Regions from separate parts of the Homo sapiens genome. Here region 2 is linked to region 1. The links come from fine-mapping of genetic effects on gene expression. A gene starts in region 1. The other region holds a variant in brackets. All regions are shown on one strand. Distances are from middle to middle.

Region 1 (9,320 bases):
CTCTTGTTGCCCAGGCTGGAGTGCAATGGCTCGATCTTGGCTCACCGCAACCTCCACCTCCCGGGTTCAAGGGATTCTCCTGCCTCAGCCTCCTGAGTAGCTGGGACTACAGGCTCGCGCTACCACGCCCAGCTAATTTTTTTTTTTTTTTTGAGACAAAGTCTCACTCTTGTCCCCCAGGCTGGAGTGCAATGGAACGATCTTGGCTCACTGCAACTTCTGCCTCTGGGTTCAAGTGATTCTCCTGCCTCAGCCTCCCGAGTAACTGGGATTACAGGCGCCTGCCACCATGTCCAGCTAATTTTTTTTGTATCTTTAGTAGAGACGGGGTTTCACCATGTTGGCCAGGCTGGTCTCCAGCTCCTGACCTCAGGTGATCTGCCTGTCTCGACCTCCCAAAGTGCTGGGATTACAGGTGTAAGCCACCATGCCCGGCCAATTTTTGTATTTTTAGTAGAGACGGGGTTTCACCATGTTGGCCAGGATGGTCTCAATCTCCTGACATCGTGATCCTACCACCTCAGCCTCCCAAGTAGCTAGGACTACAGAGATGCAGCACTATGAATGGCAAATGTTTGTATTTTTTGTAGAGCTGGAGTTTTGCCATGTTACCCAGCCTGGTCTTGAACTCCTGGGCTCAAGCAATCCACCTGCCTAGGCCTCCCAAAATGCTGGGATTACAGGTATGAGCTGCCATGCTTGGCCTAACCATAAATGTAATTTTTTTTCTGAGACAGAGTCTTGCTCTGTTGCCCAGGCTGGAGTGCAGTGATGTGATCTCGGCTCACTGCAGCCTTGACTTCTCAGGTTCAAGTGATCTTTCTACCTCAACCTACTAAGTAGCTAGGACCATGGTCTTGTGCCAGCATGCCTGCTAACATTTAAAATTTAGTTTTTGTAGAAACAGGGTCTCATTATGTTGCCCAGTCTGATCTTGAATTCCTAGGTTTAAGGAATCCTCCCACCTTGGCCTCCCAAAGTGCTGGGATTACAGGTGTGAACCACCGCACCTGGCCTAATATTCTTAATATATATAGGATATTCAGATGATCACCTTATTCAGTAAGCTTTAGTAGTTGGCATCTTTCTTTTTTTTTCTTTTTTTTTTTTTGAGACGGAGTCTCGCTCTGTTCTCCAGGCTGGAGTGCAGTGGCACGATCTTGGCTTACTGCAAGCTCTGTCTCCCAGGTTCACGCCATTCTCCTGCCTCAGCCTCCGGAGTAGCTGGGACTACAGACGGCCGACACCACGCCTGGCTAATTTTTTTTGTATTTTTAGTAGAGACGGGGTTTCACTGTGTTAGCCAGGATGGTCTCGATCTCCTGACCTCGTGATCTGCCCGCCTCGGCCTCCCAAAGTGCTGGGATTACAGGCGTGAGCCACCGTGCCCGGCCAGTAGTTTGTATCTTTCAAGGAAATTATTGATTTTATCTAAAATGTCAAACTTGAGGGCATAAAATTCTTCATAATAGTTCTTTTTTTTTTTTTGAAATGGAGTCTCACTCTGTCACCCAGGCTGGAGTGCACAATCTCAGCTCACTGCAACCTCCGCCTCCCGGGTTCAAGCGATTCTTGTTCTTTTTTTTTTTTTTTGAGATGGAATTTTGCTGTTGTTGCCCAGGCTGGAGTGCAGTGGCGCGATCTCGGCTCACCGCAACCTCCAACTCCCAGGTTCAAGCGATTCTTCTGCCTCAGCCTCCTGAGTAGCTGGAATTACAGGCATGAGTCACCACGTCCGGCTAATTTTGTATTTTTAGTAGAGACGGGGTTTCTCCATGTTGGTCAGGCTGGTCTCAAACTCCTGAACTCAGGTAATCCACCCACCTCGGCCTCCCAAAGTGCTGGGATTACAGGCGTGAGCCACCATGCCTGGCACGATTCTCATTTTTCAGCCTCCTGAGTAGCTGGGATTACAGGTGCATGCCACCACGCCTGGCTAATTTTTGTATTTTTAGTAGAGACGAGGTTTCATCATGCTGGCCAGGCTGGTCTCAAATTCCTGACCTCATCATCAGCCCGCCTCAGCCTCCCAAAGTGCTGGGATTACAGGCGTGAGCCACTGGGCCCGGTCTCTCTTACTTGAATCTTAAAAAGTTTGAAGGTTGGGTGTGGTAGCGCGTGCTTACAATTCTAGCACTTTGAGAGGCCCAGGCTGGAGGATTGCTTGAGCTCTAGGAGTTTAAGACCAGCCTGGGCAACACAAAGAGACACCACCTCTACTACTACTACTACTACTAATAATAATAATTAGCTGGTCGGGGTGGGTGCCATGGTTCACGACTGTAATCCCAGCACTTTGTTTTTTTTTTGTTGTTGTTGTTGTTGTTTTTTCTGAGATGGAGTCTCGCTCTGTCGCCCAGGATGGAGTGCGGTGGCGCGATCTCAGCTCACTGCAAGCTCCACCTCCCAGGTTCACGCCATTCTCCTGCCTCAGCCTTCCAAGTAGCTGGGACTACAGGCGCCCGCCACCACACCCAGCTAATTTTTTTTTTTTGTATTTTTAGTAGGGATGGGGTTTCACTGTGTTAGCCAGGATGGTCTCGATCTCCTGACCTCGTGATCCGCCAGCCTTGGCTTCCCAAAGTGCTGGGATTACAGGCGTGAGCCACCGCACCCGGTCAATAGTAATTATTTTTGAGACAGAGTCTCACTCTATCGCTAGACTGGAGTGCAGTGGCATGATCTCGACTTACCATAACCTCAGTCTCCTGGTTCAAGCGATTCTCCTGCCTCAGCCTCCCAAGTAGCTGGGATTACAGGTGCCCGCCACAATGCGAGCTAATTTTTGTATTTTTAGTAGAGATGGGGTTTCACCATGTTGGCCAGGCTGGTCTCAAACTCCTGACCTCAGGTGATCCACCTGCCTCAGCCTTCCAAAGTGCTGAGATTGCAGGCATGAGCCACCGCATCCGGCCAAATTATTATCACTCTTTTTTTGAGGCACGGTCTTGCTCTGTCACCCATGCTGGAGTGCAGTGGTCGGATCACAGCTCACTGCAGCCTTGACCTCCTGGGCTCAAGCCAATCCTCCTGCCTCAGCCTCCTGAGTAGCTGGGACTACAGGCGTGCACCACCATGCCTTGCTAATTTTTTTATTTTTTGTAGAAAGGAGGTCTCACTTTATTGCCCAGTCTTGAAAATTATTTTTTGATAGGAGCATTGGAGAGATTTTCACAAAGGAAGTGAAATTTCAGCTGGGCTGTTAACCCCATCTGAATTCCTCATAGCCTTTTAGTTGTGGTTTAGAGACCCTTCCTGGGACTCTCTGAGTACATTGGTACCTTTTATTGTGTTTTCCAAAAACGTTCTAGGGAGGGCTTTCTTCATCAGTGCTCATGGCACTTTAAAGAGTATATATATACATGCATGTTCTTTTCTTTTTTTTGAGATGAAGTTTCGCTCTTGTTGCCCAGGCTGAAGTGCAATGGCGCAATCTCGGCTCACTGCAACCTCTGCCTCCCGGGTTTAAGTGATTCTCCTGCCTCAGCCTCCTGAGTAGCTGGTGTTACAGGCATGTGCCCAGCAAATTGTGTATTTTTACTAGAGACAGGGTTCCTCCATGTTGGTCAGGCTGGTCTCGAACTCCCAACCTCAGGTGATCTGTCTGCCTCAGTCTCCCAAAGTGCTGGGATTACAGGCATGAGCCACCATGCCTGGCCACATATGTTCTTTTCTTCTCTCTCTTTTTTTTTTTTTTGTTTTGTTTTGAGACAGAGTCTTGCTTTGTGGCCCAGGCTGGAGTGCAGTGGCATGATCTTGGCTCACTGCAACTGCCACCTCCCAAGTTCAAGCCATCCTCCTGCCTCAGCCTCCTGAGTAGCTGAGACTACAGGCACACGCCACCACTCCTGGCTAACTTTTGTATTTTTAGTAGAGACAGGTTTTCACCATGTTGGCCAGGCTGGTCTCGAACTCCTGACCTTTTGTGATCTGCCCACTTCAGCCTCCCAAAGTGCTAGGATTACAGGTGTGAACCACTATACCCAGCTGGTATATGCACATATGTTCTTATTTCTACATTTTTTTTTCTTTTTTTGAGACAGGGTCTCACTCTGTTACTCACGCCTGATCTGTTAGATCAGGCCAGAGTACATTGGTCTGATCTGGGGTAACTGAAACCTCTGACTCCCTGGCTCATATGATCCTCCCACCGCAGCCTTCTGTGTAGCTGAGACTACAAGCGTGTGTGCAACACCATGTCTGGCTAATTTTTGTATTTTTTGTACAGGCGCGGTTTCCCCGTGTTACCCAGGCTAGTCTTGAACTCCTGGACTCAAGCGATCCACCTGCCTTGGCCTCCCAAAGTGCCGGGATTAGAGGCATAAACCACTGTACCCGGCCGGCCTACATTCTGTCTTTTAAAATTTGTTTTCAATACACAAGTAAAATACAAATGCATTCTATATTCTTGGTGTGAGATATCTGAAATAATACTGAGAAACAAGAGTCTTTATTCTTTTCTTTTCTTTTCAGACGGAGCTTCCCTCTGTTGCCCAGGCTAGAGTGTAGTGGCGCGATTTCGGTTCACTGCAACCTCTGCCTCCCAGGTTCAAGCGACTCTCCTGCCTCAGCCTCCCGAGTAGCTGGGATTATGGACACCCGCCACCGCGCCCAGCTAATTTTTTTGTTTTGTTTTGTTTTGTTTTTTGAGAGGGAGTCTCGCTCTGTCACCCAGGTGGGAGTGCAGTGTCGTGATCTTGGCTCGGTGCAACCTCCGCCTCCGGGGTTCAAGCAATTCTCCTGTCTCAGCCTCCTGATTAGCTGGGATTACAGGCTTGTGAAACCAAGTCCAGCTAATTTTTGTATTTTTAGTACAGACGGGGTTTCACCACGTTGGTCAGGCTGGTCTCCAAATCCTGAGCTGTGATCTGCCAGCTTCGGCGTCCCAAAGTGCTGGGATTACAGGGGTGAGCCACAGCTCCTGGCCTTGTTTTGTTTTTTTGATACGGAGTTTTGCTCTTTTTGCTCAGGCTGGAGTGCAATGGCTCCGATCTCGGCTCACTGCAACCTCCCCCTCCCGGATTCAAGTGATTCTCCTGCCCCAGCCTCCCGAGTAGCTGGGACTAAAGGCACGCGCCACCGCACCAGGCTAATTTTTGTATTTTTATTTATTTATTTTTTTAGTAGAGATAGGGTTTCACCTTATAGGCCAGACTGGTCTTCAAACTCCTGACCTCGTGATCCTCCCGCCTCGGCCTCCCAAAGTGCTAGGATTACAGGCTTGAGCCACTGCGCCCGGCTCTAAGTTTTGTATTTTTAGTAGAGACAGCGTTTCGCCACATTGGCCAGACTAGCCTCGAAGTTCTGACCTCAGGTAATCCACCCTCCTCGGCCTCCCAAAGTGTTAGGATTATAGGCCTGAGCCACCGTGCCTGGTCTATTTTTTATTTTTATTTATTTATTTTTTTAATAGAGACGCTAGTCTCAAACTCCTGAGCTCAAGTGACTCTCCTTTGGCCTCCCAAAGTACTAGGATTACAGGCGTGGGCCACCACGCCCGGCCAACAGTTATTAAAATTACGATGATGAAATTTTAGGCATTTAGAATACTTCAGGCCAAAAACACTTTGAGCCAGGGGGCTCGCTCAAAGGCATGCGCAAAAGCCATCAGGCCTGTACCTGGAGAACTCAGGTGAGACGTTGCCACTCGTTGTAATCCCTCCCCCTAGCACTCGGCCCCCGAGCCTGGGCCACTGCCCTGGCTACACCGGGAAGTCTGGAGCTAGAAAGTGGGCCGTGCGCGTGACGGGCGCGCGTGACGCCGAGGGGGCAGGTCTGAGAAGCAGGCTGCGCCGGGATTCGGCGGTCGGTTCCCGCGGAAGGGGCGGGTCAGGTTAGGGGGCGGTGCTTAATGGGAGCTGGTCTTGGGGCCGGGCTTCCGCGTGCGTTGGCCTGGCGGCGAGAGCGCGCGGCGGGGGCGTGCCCGGCGGGCGGGGCGGGGCCAGCCGGGGGCGGGGCGGGGCGCGGCCTAACGGCGGCGGCGGCGGCGGCGACGGCGACAGCAGCGGTGGTGGTGTCTGGTTAGCTCGGCGGCTGCAGATCTCGCGGCGACGCCTGCGAGGGACCCGGGCCGCGGGTCGAGGCGGGCGGCGCCTGCGAGGGACCCGTGTCGCGGGTAGAGGCGGGCGGCGCGCGGCGGCGGCGCTCGGCGATGGTAGGCGTCCCTGGAGCGGCCGCCTTCCAGCGTAAGTGGGGCGTGAATGCGGGCGGCCGAGGGGGGCGTGTGAGGGCCTGCGGCTCCGCAGGCGCGGTGATTCCGAGTGCCCCGGGCGCGAGGCCGGGAGTGGAAACTGAGGCCCGAAGCGGGGCGGCGGATCCAAGGTCACGCAGCGGGGCGGGCCTTCCCGGGCTCCTGAGGCCACCCCGTCGCTTCCTGCGCCGCCCGAAGAGCTCGGGGCTCACGGTGTGAGGGAAATTGTGGGGCCCGCGGCCTCGGAACTTAGGCCGGGCCGGCGTCCATGGGACTTGCCGGCGGGCAAGAATCATTTTGTTGTCCCAGCGCTGGGGCCACGAAGTCCGGCTCCTGGGGAAATACTACACCCGCCCGATGTTGAGGGTTGGAGGAGATGAGAATGGCCCCTCGGAGGGCCTGTTTGAGCGCAGGCTCAGTAGTTGGCTACCTGGGTTCACATCCAGGCTTCCCCATTTAGGTAGTGACCTTGGCTCTCCCGGTGCCTCAGTTCCCCCATCTGCAAAATGGGGATGTGGAGCGGGTTCCCTCCCTCCCCCAGGGTTCTTGGGTTTTGTGAGGCCAGTAAAACGCTTGACACCGACCGTGGCACACACACAATTGTGAAAACTGTCATTATTGTAATCGTCCTTTATTAATCTGATCCAGTGTGCACCGCACTCGGAAAAGTCCGAAATTAGGCTCTAGCCGTGTTAAGATTTTGTTTTGTTGTCTGTTAGTCCTGCTCCATGATCTAATTGTTATTCTTACTTCCATTTAGCCATTCCAGTATTTATCTAGTGTTCCTCCTTGATGTGTGAGATCCTTGGGGGAGGGGTGGCTTCTCTGAATAAGAACAATAAAATTTTAATTGTTTTTCATTATTGTAATTATAATAGCCAACATTTTTTTGAGCACCAGACATTTTGCATTCTATTCACTTAATATTTATTAAATCATATAGTAAGTTTAAAAATACCATTCCAGGCCCTGGGAATACAATAAACAAGATAGACCGAACTGGGGTTTTGAGTTTAGTTAGGAGAGGGAGAGACATAGTAAATGAGGAAACAGATAAACATGTTTTGCATGTTTTTTTAATTGTTTAATCTTGATGACATCCTAAGTAAGACATTATTTGAGGATGCCCATTTTGCAGAGGATGAAACTGAGTAACAGAAGGTACTCTGAGTACTAGTCTCAGAGCTGATGTCCTTAAACACGTGAAAGGGAGGCTTTACGCTTCTTTTTTTTTGCACCCATTAAATGTTGGATTGAAGATAGAAAAAGTAGATACACCCAGCTTGCAGTTACTGCTTTTGATGGTTTGATCCATTCCTCATGAAATTTCCAACTAAAGAGGCGGATAGTGATTACTCTTTTAGGCTTGCAAAGGTACAGCATCTCTGTAAAATGAAAGGCTTTTTTTTTTTTGAGACGGAATCTTGCTCTGTCGCCCAGACTGGAGTGCAGGGGTGTGATCTTGGCTCACTGCAACCTCCGTCTCCTGGGTTCAAGCTATTCTCCTGTCTCAGCCTCCGGAGTAGCTGGGACTACAGGCATATGCCACCACGCTCGGCCAATTATTTTATTTTATTTTATTATTTTTTTTGAGACGGAGTTTTGTTCTTGTTGCCCAGGCTGGAGTGCAGTAGTACAATATCGGCTCACTGCAACCTCCCCCCGCCCCAGGTTCAAGCGATTCTCCTGCATCAGCCTCCAGAGTAGCTGCGATTACAGGCGCCTGCCACCACACCTGACTAATTTTTTGCATTTTTAGTAGAGACGGTTTTACCATGTTGGCCAGGCTGGTCGTGAACTCCTGAACTCAGGGGATCCATCTGCCTCAGCCTCTCAAAGTGCTGGGATTAGAGGCATGAGCCACTGCGCCCGGCCTTAATTTTTATATTTTTAGTAGAGACAGGGTTTCACCATATTGGTCAGGCTGGTCTCGAACCCCTGACCTCAGGTAATTCACCCACCTCAGCCTCCCAAAGTGCTGGGATTACGAGCGTGAGTCACCAAGCCTGACCAGAAAGGACTTTTTATTTGAAAAAATTGGGGGGCTCTTCTGCCTATGAAGTAGTCTTCCTTTGTTTCTTTACTTCCATAATAAACTTGCTTTCACTTAAAAAAAAAAGATTGTGTCCAAATTTCTTTTGTGTAGTATTTAGTTTAAAATATGCCCAAAAGCACAACTTTTGCTTCTGTTACGTAACTACATTTTTGTTTTCTTTTTTCCTTTTTTTGAGACAGTCTCTCTCTGTCACCCAGACTGGAGTGCAGTGGCGTCATCATGGCCCACAGCAGCCTCAACCTCCTGGGTTCAAGTGATTCTCCTGCCTCAGCCACTTGAGTAGCTGGGACTCCAGGCGCCACCACACCCAGCTAATTTTTTTATTTTTTGTAGAGATGGGGTCTTGCTTTGTTGCCCATGCTAGTCCGGAAGTCCTGGGCTTGAGTAATCCTCCTTCCTCAGCCATCCAAATTGCTGGGATTAAAGTCATGAGCCACTTTGCCTGGCCTTTTTTAGTGTTTCTAAGAGAATTCTGTATTACATTCCTAGACAGTACACTTGGTGTAGTACTCAGCCTCCTGAGGAGCTGGGATTACAGGTGCTCACCACCATGCCTGGCTAATTTTTTTTTGTATTTTTTGTAGAGACGGGGTTTAACCATGTTTTGGCTGGGCTCCTGACCTCAAGTGATCTGCCCGCCTCAGCCTCCCAAAGTTCTGGGATTACAAGTGTGAGCCTCTGCACCCGCCCTTGATTGAAGTTTTGGTTTTTTTTTTTTTTTTTTTTTTTTGAGACGGAGTTTCACTCTTGTTGCTCAGGCTGGCGTGCAATGGCATGATCTCGGCTCACTGCAACCTCCGCCTCCTGGGTTCAAGCAGTTCTCCTGCCTCAGCTTCCCAAGTAGCTGGTATTACAGGTGCGTGCCAACACGTCCGGCTAATTTTTGTATTTATAGTAGAGATGGGGTTTCACTACATTGGCCAGGCTGGTCTCGAACGCCTGACCGCAGGTGATCTGCCCGCCTCGGCTTCCCAAAATGCTGGGATTACAGGCATGAGTAACTGCACCTGGCCTTGATTGAAGTTTTTAACTGGCATGCTGGGAAAGAGAATATAGGAGTTCAGTCTTAAAATC
Region 2 (9,320 bases), 200 kb after region 1:
CTCTCGGCCAGGTACTGATGGTCAGTTTCCAGGTCCAGCCTCCGCTTCACCTGTGGCGAAAACGGGAGGATGCCCAGTAACCAGGAGTGAGGCCAGAAGAGACCTGGCTTAAGGCTGGGTGCCTCTGGGCTACCCTCGCCTCAGTTTCTCTAGCAGGATGCCTGAGTGTGTGACTGAGGGAGATCAGAGGGGACATAGCCTGAGAGTCACAGTCCTACCACACAGGACATTCCATTTTCACCACTTCTCTGGGGTCTAGCGGTGGATTTAAAACACATCCGCAAACTTTCTGATCCTTCTCCTTCAAAAGATATAGCCTAATTCTCCCCTTATGAGCCAGACCTGGTAACTTGCTTCTGGGGATGAATGAATGGAATGTGGTGGAAGGGATGGCCTGTCACTTTTGAGACTGGGTCAGAGGCGCTGGAGCTTCCTCCTTGCTCTGTATTGGGTCACTTACTCTGCCATATCATATGGGCACTCAAGTAGCCCTAATGATGGGCAAGAAACCATGGCCTCCTCCCAACAGCAACACTTAGTCACAACTTCTGTTAGCAGCCAGAACCCAAACACTGGCTGAATCTCCAGAGACCCCAAGCCAGAGCTGGATAAGTCTTCCCTGAATTCCTGACCCACAAAAACTATATAATAAATGTTTGTTGTTTTAAGGCACTATTTTTTTTTCTTTTTTAGACAGGGTATCGCTCTGTTGACTATGCTGGAGTGCAGTGGTATGATCACAACTCTCTGCAGCCTAGACTTCCTGGGCTCAAGCAATCCTCCCACCTCAGCCTTCCAAACAGCTGGGACCACAGGCGCATCCCTCCAAGACCAGCTAACTTTTCTATTTCTCGTAGAGATGGGGTCTCCCTATGTTGCCCAGACTGGTCTCAAACTCCTAGGCTCAAGCAATTCTCCCATCTCAGCCTTCACTGTAGTCGTGCTGGGACTAGTCAGCCACCATGCCCAGCTAAGCCACTGATTACATAGGTCCCTTGGCTAAATCACCTTCTCTCTGGTTTTTGACTAATCTATACGCATGGTAGCAGCTGGTGCTCATCAAGTTCCTTGCATCCATTAGTTCATTCCATTCAACGGACTGGCTGTATAAAAATGGCCCCATTTTCCAGATAAGGCAACTAAAGCCCAGGGAGGCCCAGGAAGTGGTAGAGTCAGGATTTGTACCCAAGACGGTCTGAGGAAGAACCCAAGCTCTAAGCACTCTGGCTTAGTTCAGACACTCCAGGATTGGGACTGTCCTGGAGGTCTCACAGGCTGCTCAAAAGTACCCGGACCAAAACCAGACTGATCTTCCCCTCCACCATCCACAGGGTTTCCTGAGCTAGAGTTCCTGACCTGTCACCCTCCTCACATGCAGCTACCAAGAACTGCTCATCACCACGGCGATCACCACCTTCCCAGTGGGCTGCTGAGCAGACTCCACACTGGTCTCCCTGCCTCTGCTGCAGCCAGTCCTCCTACAAACCTTACCATGCCGCCGCCCCTGCTTAAGGCCTTCCTCCAGCTCCCCATTGCCTTTGTACTCTCATCTGCCACTGCTTCTCTAGAGGAACCCGAGTCACGTTTTCCCAGAAATCTAGACTGCCCTTGCATCCCTCCCACCCTCCCCACTTCACGCCTGCTCCCTCTACCTCTGTGGGCAGAAACCTTACGCATCAGCTAGGAGGTGTCACCTCTTCTCCCTCTGAACTGCCTCAAACCCAACCTTTTGCCACATTCTGTCTCTCCCTACACATTTCTGCAGATGTATCTATCTCACCCTCAGAGGTGTCTGAATCACTTGAGAATCTATAGTGTCTGCCATGGAGCCTGGCATCAACAAATGTTTGCTGAATGAACCCCCCCCATGCTGATGAACCACTCCCTCTTGTGCACATTCACTGACTTTTGAAGGCACCCAGGGGAAAGAAGAGCTGTTGTGCTCTAAGCACTGTGTACTCAACTGCTTCCCCTGCAACCCTCCGGCCACCTTTTGGCAGGTGCTATGATGGCCTCCACCTGAGAGAGGCCACACAGTGAGAGGTGGACCCAGGACTTGCACCCTAGTTGGCTGGTACAGAGCCCACACTCATACCCGCCACGTGCCCCACCTCCCCAGAACCCAGCCAGAATGTATCCCCCTCCATACTCGCCCCTGGGGCCCAAACCCTAGCATGCTTCTGCCATCTGCACCCCTTGCCTTCTCCCTGGGATCCCCACCCTTGTCCACCCCTGAAGGCAGGTCAGTGCCACGCCCTAAAACAAAGGCTTGAGTGGATGCCATTTCTGCCACTTCTCCCTAGATAAACACTGGCAGAGGGGCCCCGAAACGCAGGGGTGAAGACATTCACTGCTGAAAAAATCTGGATGACTCGAACACCCATCCATGAAGGGGGTCACGAAAGCTGTGCTTTGTTTAGCCCCTTGAACACCACGCAGCTGTCAAGGACCGAGGCAGGTTGACAAGAATCCCCTCACACATACAGACAAGCAAAACACTGTCACAGGGCGATATATTTATATGATCCCTTTTGGATTAAAAAGCTCATGAAACTTTTCTCTGGTTCAGTTTATATTATTATAGAATACATTTCGGGGCAGCCTCTGGAAGGACTGTGGGAGACCAGTGCCATATCTGAATGGTGTGAATGATACAGGAAAAACTACAATTTTTAAAACTTTAAAAAACAAAAACTGTCACAACCACCACAAACAAAAATAGCCTTAGGGAAAAAAAGGAAAAAAATGAATAGGGCTGGGATCCTGCCGTCAACTTTCTAGTTTCTTAAGAGTTAAGTTTTTGGCCAGGCGCAGTGGCTCACGCCTGTAATCCTGGCACTTTGGGAGGCCGAGGCGGGCAGATCACTTGAGGTCAGGAGTTCAAGACCAGCCTGACCAATATGGTGAAACCTCATCTCTACCAAAAATACAAAAATTAGCCGGGTATGGTGGTGCACGTCTGTAGTCCCAGCTACTCGGGAGGCTGAGGCAGAAGAATCGCTTGAACCCAGGAGGTAGAGGTTGCGGTGAGCCGAGATGGCGCCACTGTACTCCAACCTAGGTGACAGAGCGAGACTTCATCTCAAAAAAAAAAAAAAAAAAAAGAGTTAAGAGTTAAGTTTTCAGCTGGGCATGGTGACTCACACCTGTAATCCCAGCACTTTGAGAGGCTGAGACAGTCAGATTGTCTGAACTCAGGAGTTCAAGACCAGCCTGGGCAACATGGCAAGACCCTCTCTCTACTAAAAATACAAAAATTGGCTGGGCATGGTGGTACACGCCTGTAATCCCAGCTACTCGGGAGGCTGAGGCACAGAATAGCTTGAACTTGGGAGGCAGAGGTTGCAGTGAGCCGCAATCACGCCACTGCACTCCAGCCTGGGTAACAGAATGAGACCCTGTCTCCAAAAAAAAAATAAATAAATAAATAAAAAAGTTAAGTTTTCTACATTAAACATGTATTATAGTTATAATACTTGAGTTTGTGGAAGTGGACAGGCAGGGCCAAGAGGAATGGCTGAATTGCAGAGCCTTGTATACAGAATGCCTGCTGGTATAGAAGCTAAGCCTGTAGCTTATTTCAAGGACTGTGCCAGACAAATGCCAGTGCAGAGAGGCCAAAAGCCAAACCTGTGGACTTTCTGGACTTCAGTTCCAGAATGGTGCCAGCCTCCTGGCCCTT[A/C]AGTACACTGGGGGCCAGGGCTCCTTGTCTCTGGGCCTAGTGCCTCCTGGGCATTCACTAACTCAACAACTGTTGAATGAATGGAATGCCCAGGCCAATGAGCCTGCCCCTGACAGGTGGAGTGGAGGGCATTTTTCTTTGCCCCTGTCCCTCCCTTTGATCCTAGAACCCATAATCCTGTTCAGATCTTTGAGGACAAGACCCTCAGGTTGTTAGATTTCCGCAGACCTGAGCCTTCTATAATGCTTGTCACACAGCTGAATGGAAGATGCTTGCCCAGGTCCCAAGTGGTACCCACAGGAACAGGCCCCTGGAGTACAGGAGACAGGCCACCTGGCCCACCCCTGGTACAACCCCCTCCCACCCACTCATTAAGAGGGAGGGCCCCTAAAAGCCCTTCTTGCCCTTTCTTCAACCTGTATCAGCATCCCCAGAAAGCAAGGCATCCCAGAGGTCAACCTCAGAGGAAACGCAGACTGCTCTCCCCACTCAAGAGCAGAATGACATGGGAAGATTCTAACATCTCTAGGCCTCAGCTTCCCAATCTGTAAAAAGGGACTGCTGCTGATGGGGTTAAATGAGTTAATTAAGTAAAGCGCTTGGCACAGAGCCTGGCACACAAGACATCCTCAAAACAATGGTGGCTGCTATTGTTATTATTATTAGCATTGTGGTGATTCCGGAAGGCAGCACTGGGCATGGGGCCAAGGGGGTTGGGGGAGCCTCCTCAGGATGCCTCAGGGACCAGCTGCCACCCACACCCCCATCAGCAGTTAGGCAGCTTCTACCTCCTTGTCCTGAGTCCTGCCTCACCCCTCCCACTTGCTCCAAGTTCCCTGCTGAGACCCCATCCTGCCTGGCCAGACCCCGCCTGCACACCAGAGCCCCACCTTCACCCATAGGCTGCGCCAGTCAAACTGGTCTCCACACCCTGCCCTGTGCCCCACAGTTCCCAGCTCCAGGCTTCTACGCCTCCAATCCCTTCTCCCACTGGAATTCAGCCGCCTCTTCTGGGCCCTCCAGTCTGAATTCGTCTTGAGCTCAGCGATCAGGGAGGGCTTTATTAAAGGATCTCCCTGAGACATTTTCTCTCCTGGCACTGGGGGCCTCCTCTCCAGCTCCCAGAGGCCCAGCCCACCTAGTCCTTCTACAGAGACTCAGGGGTCGGCCTGCCTGATTAATGAGGTTCCATGGCAACCAGGGCCTGGGAGGGTGGAGGGTGGCAGATGGAAGGACAGGCAGAGGGAGGGGATCAGCAGCTGGTCCAGCTGCCCCGCCCCTGCAGAGAAGGCCTCCCAGCCAGGAGGGCTGTCCCCAGAGGCCTGGCCGGCCAGGCCTGCACCTGGCAGTCAGCATCGAGGCAGGAAGGAGGGTCTCCTCAATGGCTCACCAACGGTTAGGCCCCAGGACTTTCCTCCGCCCCGCCTTCACTTCCCCTAGCAGCTGTGCTCACTACCGAGATGCAAATTCTGAGCTGAAGCCAGCAGGCCTCAGTTCAAATCCCAGCCCCACCACCTGCAGCCGTGTGACCAGGGGCAAGTCACTTTCCCTCTCTGGGCCTCAGTTCCTCCTCCGTCAGATGGGCACAGTGACAACACAGCTCACAGCGGGGTTGTGAGTTTTAGCTGGCTTGAAGTCGCCCAAAGGCCTGGCATGCAGTAAACGCCAGTTGAATACACGTGGGCTATTATTATCACTGAGTCCGACGCTGGGGAGGCTCCGGTGAGGAAGCTGAGGCGCAGAGCACAGAGCAGCAAACAGGGACCGGCCCGAGGTCACCCCGCACCCCAGGGCGGGGCCCGGAGGCCCAACCCCGGCTCTGCACCGCCCAGCCTGGGCGCCTCAGTCAACCCCTCCCCCGCCCCCTGCCGCCTCCAGGCCAAACACGGCGCCCTCCCGGGTCTGCGCGGGGGGCACAGGCGGCGCTGTCGGCGCGGCGTCCCTGGGGTCCGTACCGGCGGGCGGCCGAGCGCGGGCCGCGGCGCACTGGGTGTGGGCCGGGGCGCCTGCGGTGTGGCGAAGAGCAGCAGGTCAGGGTCGCAGGGGCCGGCGGCGGGCGCCGCGGGGCCGGTGGGAGCCGGCGGGGCGCTGGCGTCCTGCGCGGCGGAGATGATGACGATCTGCGAGGAGTCGAGCAGCCGCAGCGCGCCGGCCCCGAGCAGGGCCTCCAGCGCCGGCGCGCATGGGCCGCCCGCAGGGGCCCCGGCCAAGGCCATGACGCTCACGGCCCGCGCGGCCCGGGTGACAGGCGGCGGCGGCGGCGCGGGCCCATGGCGGCAGGCCTCGGCGAGGGCTCGATCCCGCTCCGCCCCCGGCCGCCGCTGCCTGCAAAGTCCCGGCCACTTTTACGCGCCAAATCCTTTTTGCCGCGAAAGAGCCACGAGCCGCCGAGCGCCGCCACAATTGGCTGCCCCGGCCGTGACGGGAACAACGGCGGCGGTTCCTATTGGCTTTAACGCGCCGGACCCGGCGGCGAGGGGCGGGATGGGGCGGCGGCGCGGGGCGGTACGGCCAATGGCGGGGCGGGGCGCGCGCAGGCTTTGTCCGGATGGTACCAGGCGCGGTGTGACTCCCCGCCCCCAGCCCGGGCGTCCCCTGCTGGAGGCGTGGGGACACCGGAACATAGGCCCCGCCCCGCCCCGACGCTCCCGCATCCCACTGACCTTTCTATAGTGCAGGTTCAGAACAGAGCCTCTCTTCTGCACGTGACCCTCAACCTGTAGCCCCCAACAGCCTCAGCTTAGATTTCCAGAGACTGTCCCCTCTTCTTTTCAGGATCATCAGTTCCACAGCCCAGCCATCAGCCACCTCTTCCATCCTCAACTTGCCTCACCCATGACATTATCCTAATCCTGCACCCAGCCCTATCCCGCTCACCCAGAGCCCAAGCTGAAGAGCGGTGCCTGGAAATGGCGAGGGGGACGTCGGGCTTTCCTGCAAGTCCCATTTTAGCCAAAATCTCCAACAGCCAACGTATAGCATCTGCTTGAACTCATTCATTCCCTCACTCATTCAACAAACGTTTGGAGAGCTTGCTCTGTGCCCCATCCTCAATTCGTGGCCCTAAGGAGCTCACAGTCCAGTAGACAGGGGAACAGAAAGGTAACAGACGTTTACAATACGATGAAGTGGCGTCTGGGCGCGGTGGCTCACCACCGGAATCCCTGTAATCAGCTGGCGGGGTGGATCGCATGAGCCCAGGAGTTCGAGACCAGCCTGATCAACATGGTGAAGACCCATCTCTACAAAAAATACAAAAATTAGCCAGGCATGGTGGCGTGTGCCCGTAGTCCCAGCTACTTGGGAGGCTGAGGTGGGAGGATTGCTTGAGCCCGAGAAGTCGAGGCTGCAGTGAGCTATGATCATGCCACTGCACACCAGCCTGGGCGACAGAGCGAGATCCTGTCTCTAAAACAAAAAAAGAAAACACATCACTTCTAGGGAGCCCTCCCAAGGATTTACTCACTTCCTCTATTGCCCACTGCTGCCTCTGCTCCAATGCTGACCACACACACTCCTTTTCTCCATCTGCCTCCCCTGCCAATCTAGGAGCTCAGTAGCGACTCCTCCCAACACTGGTCTGGCCCAGAGCAGGCGCTGAGAAAGGTTATGAAAGAAACAGAGGCTAAGCCAGAGGCTGCCTAGACTGTGACAAGGAGACCACGGTTCTGCAAGGGTGGTCCTTAGGCCACTGGCTTCAGAACCACGTGGTCACTTGCTAATTTTGGGCCCACCCTGGCCCTGCCAATTTAAAATCTCTAGGTGCCCAAGAATCTGCATTTTAACAATGCCATGTCCCCTTTCCAGGTGATATTTGTTATTCTTTTTCTTTTTTTTTTTTTGACACTTAGGGAATTAGAAAAGCCAGTATCTTATTTTTTTTTTCCTATTTATTTTATATAGACGAGGTCTCACTATGTTGCCCAGGGTAGTCTCAAACCCCTGGGCTCAAGAGATCCTCCCGCCTCAGCCTCCAGCATAGCTGGTACTCCAGGTGACTGCCACCTCACCAAGCTTCCAGGTTATTTTTATGCATACTCACATTTGAAAGCAAACTGGTGTACCAGCATAATCAAAATGAGTGGTGCAGCCTCAAATCACAGCTCCTGAGGATGCTTCTCACCCTTAGTTTCAAATGGGCACACAGACCTTGCCCTGGCCCCTTCCAGGGTTGCCAGGAGAATGAAAAGCATAAGGAATTGGAAAGTGTTTTACAAACTATGAGGTGGTTTAGGAAATCAGGAGTTGTTTTCCCCTCCAATGAGTAGTTTCTGAAATTACTCATTGCAAATCCTAGAATGTATCATAGCTAGAAGGGACCACAGAGACCACATAAGCCTCTTGCTGTATGGATAGGAAAACTGAGGCCCTTTCAGGAGAAAGTAACTGTGAAGCCAACCAGTGACCAAATTGGGCCTACACTGCATTCCCAGCCCTGAGGTCTGCCTGTCCCCCTTCCCCATCCCCTCTCCATAAAGAAGCTGAGGGGTAGGTCCCATTCTAAACAACCAACGCAGGTGCTGGCAGAGAGCAAGAGAAACCAGCACATTCCCATTCCAGATGGAAAGAGTGTCCTTTCCCTGCACCTTCCCACAGGGTCCCAGTAACACTAACATTCATTTGTGTGAAGCCCTCTCAAACCCAAGTCATTCAACAAACACTTATTAAGCACCTATTATATACCAAGCACTGTGCTGGTTTAACTGTGGTGGCTGGCAAAGAGAGATGTCTATTATTATTGCTCCATTTTATGATGAGGAAATTTGAGGCCAAAAGGGCCTGAGTTTACCAAGTAGATGAAAAGGTTATTTTTCAGGCTTGGTGAGGCTGAGGTTGGGGGTTTTCCAAAGTCCTGCCCGCCCCAGAGTATTCAAGTACACATCCAGGTAGAAGTAGGCGCCCTCCGTCCCACAATCCTTCAGGTCCTGCTGAAGCAGAAAGGAGTGAAGACCAGCATTCCTAGCATGAAACTGAGGAAGAGATAAGGGCCTTCTGTACCTATTAATACCTACTTGAAAGCAGAAAAGCCTGATAGATGAGGCCCCTTGGCCCTAAGCCTGGCAGCTCCTGATAAGGCTGTTCTCAATGTCAACAGTTTTCAAAAAACAGTTTCCAAAAAATCCACAGTCACTGGGCAGCCACTTCCATTGATGATCTCCTTTCAACCCCATAATCCCGTAAGTAAGCTTGTTTATCCACATGGTGCAGGAAGGAAGAGGCTCAGAGAGGGGCATTCATAGCTCAAGGTCACACAGCAGAACTGAGATGAGAACTTCACTTGTCCCACTGCAAAACCCAGGACCTGCCCTTGCCACCCTCTGTAAATACCCCAAAAGCCAGGCTCAGGGCTGTCAAGATTATAAAGTGTAGTTTCTAAAGGGTATTATGGTGGATAGTGGCTTGGTTCATAGGTGCTTATTTCCATCACCACCTTCACCAACCAAACTAGAGGAGTTCGAGGGGATGCAATCTGTTGGGCCCACAATCCTGTGCCTGGAGACCTCTTTCCCTTGGTTCTTTCCAAGAAGCAGAGTGGTGTAGAGGTGATAGCATGGGCTTCTAAATCAGGTGGGTGTAATCAGAAATCTTGGTCAACATGACCTTGGACAAGTCAATTCACTTCATTCAATCCACAGAT

Evidence for each region. PIP is the estimated chance that this variant, and not a neighbour inherited with it, causes the effect.
Region 2: its variant is fine-mapped to the expression of CBFA2T2 in tibial nerve (GTEx, PIP 0.98).

Annotation. Positions count from the first base shown.
Region 1 is chr20:33,484,117-33,493,436 of GRCh38, forward strand. CBFA2T2 (CBFA2/RUNX1 partner transcriptional co-repressor 2) reads left to right here and starts at 5,980. Exons shown (of 11, transcript NM_001032999.3): 1 at 5,980-6,185. The coding sequence starts at 6,152. RefSeq lists an enhancer at 5,147-5,695 and silencers at 5,790-6,009, 6,020-6,299.
Region 2 is chr20:33,680,367-33,689,686 of GRCh38, forward strand. It overlaps E2F1 (E2F transcription factor 1), which reads right to left and starts at 6,019. Exons shown (of 7, transcript NM_005225.3): 1 at 5,638-6,019; 2 at 1-50. The coding sequence starts at 5,898. RefSeq lists an enhancer at 1-387 and silencers at 5,389-5,748, 5,859-6,358. The variant A/C (reference allele first, on the strand shown) is at 3,683.